Homo sapiens: one gene and its partner. The protein of the gene in region 2 interacts with the protein of the main gene of each other region in a biochemical or structural test. Each region holds a gene or a part of one and is shown on either strand. Other genes may lie near its edges.

Region 1 (3,814 bases), on a different chromosome or scaffold from region 2:
GCATGGATATGAATACTATGCTGGAGAAATCATGGTGCTGACATCACCCAGATCATGAGATCTGACCCAAGAAGATCTGTGGCTGCTGCTTTTCAGGATTTGAAGTAACAGGCATTTCATCTCAGCTTAAAAGCGGCCTCTTTGGTTCTTAATACAAACAAAACAAAACGAAAAACACACATACATAAAACCCAAACCAACAGGATGAGTGTTATCTAGAATAGTAGTAACCCAATGTTCTATCTGAAAGTTACTTGGCATGTGTGCGTTCTCTGTCTTCAAGTCCATTTTGGGGCAAGGTGGTGGCAAACTGCACAGCCCTTGATTTTCAGGGACTGACTCCGCAATCAGAACCATGCAACAGAAAACGGCCTATTACTGACTTTCTGCAGGCTTTGCTCATGGAATGGGCCTGCGCTGGTTTTTGATGTGAGAGCCAACTTCATTCTGCAATGACAGAGTTAAGACTGCCCGTCAAAAAACTATTTTCTTTTGTAATCCCAGCACTTTGGGAGGCCAAGACGGGCGGATCCCGAGGTCAGGAGATCGAGATCATCCTGGCTAACAGGGTGAAACCCCGTCTCTACTAAAAATACAAAAAAATTAGCCGGGCGCGGTGGCGGGCGCCTGTAGTCCCAGCTACTCGGGAGGCTGAGGCAGGAGAATGGCCCGAACCCGGAAGGCGGAGCTTGCAGTGAGCCAAGATGGCGCCACTGCACTCCAGCCTGGGCGACAGAGCAAGACTCCGTCTCAAAACAAAAAAAAAAAAAAAGGCAAAAAAAGGCCGGACGTGGTGGCTCACGCCTGTAATCCCAGCACTTTGGGAGGCCAAGACGGGCGGATCCCGAGGTCAGGAGATCGAGATCATCCTGGCTAACAGGGTGAAACCCTGTCTCTACTAAAAATACAAAAAAATTAGCTGGGCATGGTGGTGGGCGCCTGTAGTCCCAGCTACTCGGGAGGCTGAGGCAGGAGAATGGGGTGAACCCGGGAGGCGGAGCTTGCAGTGAGCCGAGATCGCACCACTGCACTCCAGCCTGGGTGACAGAGCGAGACTCCATCTCAAAAAACAACAACAAAAAAAATGTTCTTTTTGGTTCCATATACCTGCAAATAAACTGAAAACCAATGAACTGTACACTTAGGTAAGTGAACTGTGGTATGTGAATGACATCTCAAAAAGGCTGTTAAAAAATGTTCTGACTTTATTAGCTAAAGTAAAAAAAAAAAAAAAAATCACAAAAAAGAGGAAATAAAAGTTCCTGTTTTGCTGCATAAATCATGATGCTGATGTCATCCAGAAGAATTATGTCTGTTCAGGAGGACTTTGCAAGGTTTGTGCAGATGCAGTTTAACCTGGATTTTTGTGGTCATATCTATGGAGCTGGGATCAGGAGCCAGGTCCCGGGGCCAGAGGGACTTTGAGAACTCACTTGGAACAGGGGCTGATCACAGTCGGCGTGGGTGGGTAAACCAAGGCAACATTTACTCGCTCGCTGCCGTTCTTGGGGCAAATGATCTCTGCCACTCCTTCCGGTCTGGGCTGACTCAGCAACTCCCCTGTAGGAGGAGAGAGAAAAACGTGTTAGGGAGATGTGCACTAAAAATGGGCTCATTTTACAAAGACAGCACTGCCCGGGGATGGGGGCAGGGGGAGAAGGGCAGAGGTGAAGCAACGAAGGATGTGAGAACAAATGTGCAACCAAGAACAGCAGAACTGCCTGGGCGCCGGCTCCAGCGCCTAAATCCTCCTCTGCGTCACCGTGGAGAAAATTTTCATGGTTATGGCAGGAAGGCCCACACTAGACAAAGACAGCATCTGTCACTGCTCTGCTCACCTTCCTTTTAACAGACTGACTCCAGGGATCTTTATCTAGATATCAACGACTGAGCCAGAGTCCCCAGAGCCCACCGAAGCAAGGGCTGCCAAGGAGGTGTTCATAATTAGGATTTGGGGCAGATGGGACTCAAGCAGACCACAGCAACCATTCAACAAAGCCCTATATAAATGATCTGGAAACACAGCAGACTAAAAGTGTTAAAAACACAAACAGCCTAAGATCAGCCCAGCCTCCTCTGGGCAAGGGGATTGCCCTGATAGGTATGTGTGAAGCAGATGCACGACACAACACTATCTAACGAGTCTAGCAAAAACACATAATTAACCTAATGGATCACCACAATACTTAAAGGAACGCTATTACTCTGCATGCCCTGGATGTAATCTCTCTTCAACTAGATCATTACATCTCTAAAAGCAGTGATGACTTCCATTCTCTCATCCATATACCCAGGGCACCCTGCCCTTTCTCAGAGAGTACTCAAGAAACAGCTCCTGGCTGCAGATGGGACACATTATTGTTCAAACTGCCCTACTTAAACCTAGGAACTAAATTTTTTGTTGTTGTTTTGGAGACAGGCTCTTGGTTTGTCACCCAGGCTGAAGTGCAGTGGCCTAATCACAGCTCTCTGCAGCCTCAATCTCCCAGGCTCAGGTGATCCTCCCACCTCAGACTCCCAAATAGCTGGGACCACAGGTATGCAGCACCACATCTGGCTAAATGTTAACCTTTTACTTTATTTTTGTAGAGACAGGAGTCTCGATATGTTTCCCAGGCTGGTCTCAAACTTCTGGCCTCAAGCAATCCTCCCACCTCAGCCTCCCAAAGTGCTGGGATTACAGGTGTGAGCCACCATGTCTGGCTTCTAGAAAGTCAATTAACCAAATCAAGGATGTGAAATGTACACCAACTGGGGAAAGACACTACTGCAATTACAACTTCAACTCTCTGCACCAACCACTTCTACTGCTGACTTGAAATTCTAGAGACTCCGGGCTGGGCGCGGTGGCTCACACCTGCAATCCTAGCAGTTTGGAAGGCTGAGGCAGGTGGATCACAAGGTCAGGAGTTCGAGACCAGCCTGGCCAATAAGGTGAAACTCCACATCTACTAAAAATACAAAAATCAGCTAGGCATTTGTGGCAGGTGCCTGTAGTCCCAGCTACCCAGGAGGCTGAGGCAGGTGAATCGCTTGAACCCGGAAGGCAGAGGTTCCAGTGAGCCCAGATTGCGCCACTGCACTCCAGCCTGGGCGACAGAGTGAGAATCTGTCTCAACAACAACAAAAAAAAAAAAAGAAAAGAAATTCTAGAGACTCCAAAGAAGAGCAGTCCCCCCTTATCCCTCAGACATGCGTTCCAAGACCCCAGCGGATGCATGAAACCGAGGACAGTACCGAAGACTATACAGACTATGTTTTTGCCTATAAGTAGATACCTATGATAAAGTTTAATTTATAAATTAGGCACAGTAAGAAATTTACAACAATAAATAGGACAATGATAATATACTGTATTAATAATTAAACTTTTATGAATATGGTCTCTCAAAAACTATTATTATGCTGCATTCACATGTATTTGGACCACAGTTGATTGCAGGTAACTGAAATCACAGAAAGTGAAACCATGGATAAGGGGACCACTGTATCTGCTGACGTATAATGATATGAAATTCCTTTGCTTCAAAGTACTGTATTTCTGGCTGGGACAGTGGTTCATGCCTCTAATCCCAGCACTTTGCGAGGCAAAGACGGGTGGATCGCTTGAGCCCAGGAGTTCAAGATCAGCCTGGCCAACATGGTAAAACCCAGTCTCTACTAGAAATACAAAAATCAGCCAGGCATGTTGGCGGGCACCTGTAATCTCAGGTATTCGGGAGGCTGAGGCATGAGAATCACTTGAATCCAGGAGGCAGAGGTTTCAGTGAGCTGAGATCAGGCCACTGCACTCCAACCCGGGCGACAGAGTGAG
Region 2 (3,412 bases):
CATCCTTTTGAAAAGCAGTTCCAGGAATTGCTTTGAGTAAGCAAACTTTCAGATTTGCCATTGACGGACCAATGCAAGACAAATGCAAGCTCGTGCAGAGGGAAAAACAAGCATGGTCTTTTAAATCAGTAAGGATGAAAATCAGAATCCCAGCTCTGCCAATTCCGGACTGTGTGACCTTGAGCAGTAGTCCTCTTGGGACAACCAAATTTTCTTATTTGCAAAATGCAGCAGTTAGTCTAAGTCCCTTCCAGTTCTAGGTATCTAGTTCTGTCTCTCTCTCTTCCAACCCCCTTTCCTCCTCACCTAGGAATGCTTTGAAGAGGACCCAGGGCGCAAGTGGATGGACAGCTTGCTCAGTAACTTGGGGTGCCAGTCTGCCTCTCATGTAGGGCCCTTCATCGATAGCTACCGCTGCTTCCAACCAAAGCAGGAGGGGGCCTTCACCTGCTGGTCAGCAGTCACTGGCGCCCGCCATCTCAACTATGGCTCCCGGCTTGACTATGTGCTGGGGGACAGGACCCTGGTCATAGACACCTTTCAGGCCTCTTTCCTGCTGCCTGAGGTGATGGGCTCTGACCACTGCCCTGTGGGTGCAGTCTTGAGTGTGTCCTCTGTGCCTGCAAAACAGTGCCCACCTCTGTGCACCCGCTTCCTCCCTGAGTTTGCAGGCACCCAGCTCAAGATCCTTCGCTTCCTAGTTCCTCTCGAACAAAGTCCTGTGTTGGAGCAGTCGACGCTGCAGCACAACAATCAAACCCGGGTACAGACATGCCAAAACAAAGCCCAAGTGCGCTCAACCAGGCCTCAGCCCAGTCAGGTTGGCTCTAGCAGAGGCCAGAAAAACCTGAAGAGCTACTTTCAGCCCTCCCCTAGCTGTCCCCAAGCCTCTCCTGACATAGAGCTGCCTAGCCTACCACTGATGAGCGCCCTCATGACCCCGAAGACTCCAGAAGAGAAGGCAGTGGCCAAAGTGGTGAAGGGGCAGGCCAAGACTTCAGAAGCCAAAGATGAGAAGGAGTTACGGACCTCATTCTGGAAGTCTGTGCTGGCGGGGCCCTTGCGCACACCCCTCTGTGGGGGCCACAGGGAGCCATGTGTGATGCGTACTGTGAAGAAGCCAGGACCCAACTTGGGCCGCCGCTTCTACATGTGTGCCAGGCCCCGGGGTCCTCCCACTGACCCCTCCTCCCGGTGCAACTTCTTCCTCTGGAGCAGGCCCAGCTGAACCAATGGAGGCCTGGGGACATCTGGCATGGTCACCCCTGCACATGATCTGAGGCCAGCTCCCCTTCCCTGAGCTGCCTCCTGCTTCTCCCTCAAAGTCTCCTACCCTTCTCTTCCTCTTTTAAGCCCTCTCTTCCTCGCTTTCCTTCCTACCTAGCTCCTTGTTGGTGAGCTTCTTGTGCCTTAATCCTGTGACCCAGCCCCTTACACCACTTTCCACCTTCCTGTCCGAAGTACACGGACACTAGCTGCCCCAGGAAGTTGTGTGATTTTAAATCACTTCTGTCTTTGCTGGAAAGTGTATTTGTGCATAAATAAAGTCTGTGTATTTGTTTCAGGGTTGCACTTTGGACATTGTGGAGGTACTCCATAAAGTTGAGTCAGAGAAGCTATCTCAATACTTGGTTTGCCGGCTGGCTGTAGCCCAATGATGTAATTCCCAGAGAAAGGGGAGGAGGGAGGGGGGAGGAGGGAATAGTGAGGCGTGAGCAGCAGTGCTCACCATAAAGGGTTCTCTGCTCAGTTGTAGGAATTTCCTGTACGGCTAAGGTGAAATCAGCAAGGAAGGTGGGCTGTGTAGCCTTAAACCAGAGCTTTCCAGCTAGTGCGTCCCACAGCTGCCACAGTGGGTTACAGGGTTGAAAGAAACGGTCCTCAGCCCTCAGAGTTGCCAGGCAGGGCCTGGGACCACACAAGTTTCAGGGACGATTGCCTCCTTAGCAAGTAGTATCATTAGTACCCCTAAGTGTGCCATGGAAATGTTTCCTGTATACTGTGACCTGGAAAGTGGGAGCATTGCTTTGAACACAGTGCTTGCTCTAGCCAAGCCTCTTCTCACCTTTGAAAATGGGACTGGTAGACCAGGCACAGTGGTGCACGCCTGTAATCCCAGCACTTTGGGAGGCTGAGATGGGTGGATCACCTGAGGTCAGGAGTTCGCAACCAGCCTAACATGGTGAGACCCCGTCTCTACTAAATACAAAAAAATTAACTGGGCGTGGTGGCGCGTGCCTGTAATCCAAGCTACTTAGGAGGCTGAGACAGGAGAATAGCTTGTACCTGGGAGGCGGAGGTTGCAGTGGGCTGAGATCATGCATTGCACTCCAGCCTGGGCAACAAGAGTGAAATTCAGTCTCCAAAAAAAAAAAAAGAAAAGAAAAAGAATGGGACTGGTAAATCCTGTTCTGTGGGATGCCGTGGGAGGGAGAGAGGATAATGGATTGAGGAAGACATCCATATCCCCTTATGGAAAATACCTCTTTGGTTTTGGGGAACCACTCCTTTCTAGGGAATTTGGTTAGGGCTGACTCATTTCCTGGCTTCAGGGGCTACCCTGGGCCCAGATTTCCAGGGCCCGGATTACCAGTGAAGCGTCAATCCCTGGATTTTTATTGAAACCATTGGAGAAGAGCCATCTCAAATAAATCTGCCAAGTATCCTAGCTCTTTGCAACTCACTGTGTAGTTTTTGGGCATTTCCTTCCTCTTTCTCATTCTGTTTCCCTGTTGGTAAAATGGAATGGTGACCAACAAGTGACCTATGGTTACCTCATAGATCTGCCACTTGTCTGAGGGAGTCAGAATGCACTTGTCTGTTCCCTGTCCAATAAAAGGCTTCACATGCTGTGGTTTGTGCTTTATTTTTAGGCTCAATTCAGCTAGAGGCACACAACAAAGCAGAAGACAGGAGTAGGCCTGGACCCAAGTGAAGCGCAGGTGGGGTGTGAATCCTAGGCAGCTGGCTTCTCAGGCATAGGTGGTGACATACTGGGGCCCCATGTTCCCGAAGTAGGAACGTTCCCACTCACTCATGAGCTCAAAGTGTACAGGACGGCGACAGAAATTGCAGGCAGCCACAGACACATCCTGGAGGGGCAGCCCCACCGCAGTCCAAGCCAGCAGCAGCTTCTCTGAAGGTGGTAGGGGGAGGGGAGGGAAAAAATGGGTTAGACTAGATCTTCCAAATCTGTCACAGTACAGATGAGCCAAGATATTGATCCCCCTCAACCCTTCAAGATACCTCAGGGCCAGAAGTAGCCTACTGTTTGCTTCTGTGTGTGCCGTGAATATTACCATTTGTATCTGGATGCTGGGATATATATTATAAAAGATTTGGAAGCTCTCCTTTGACACAATTTGAAGCCATACTGTCCTGGCCTGGACCACTCCCTAAGTATAGGATGTGC

The links.
Region 1: the proteins of APEX2 (region 2) and MFHAS1 form a complex in vitro, tested with the Homo sapiens proteins (one large-scale study listed by BioGRID and IntAct).

What each region holds. Positions count from the first base shown.
Region 1 is NC_000008.11:8,795,932-8,799,745, forward strand, and holds part of MFHAS1 (malignant fibrous histiocytoma-amplified sequence 1), read right to left. Parts: intron 1,561-3,814; coding exon 1,434-1,560; intron 1-1,433. UniProt on the Homo sapiens protein: Probable GTP-binding protein. Functions in innate immunity and more specifically the inflammatory response as a regulator of the Toll-like receptor TLR2 and TLR4 signaling pathways.
Region 2 is NC_000023.11:55,006,208-55,009,619, forward strand, and holds the end of APEX2 (DNA-(apurinic or apyrimidinic site) endonuclease 2), read left to right. Parts: intron 1-310; coding exon 311-1,228; 3' UTR 1,229-2,850; downstream 2,851-3,412. Other genes in the region: ALAS2 (5-aminolevulinate synthase, erythroid-specific, mitochondrial isoform a precursor), read right to left, coding at 2,973-3,136. UniProt on the Homo sapiens protein: Functions as a weak apurinic/apyrimidinic (AP) endodeoxyribonuclease in the DNA base excision repair (BER) pathway of DNA lesions induced by oxidative and alkylating agents.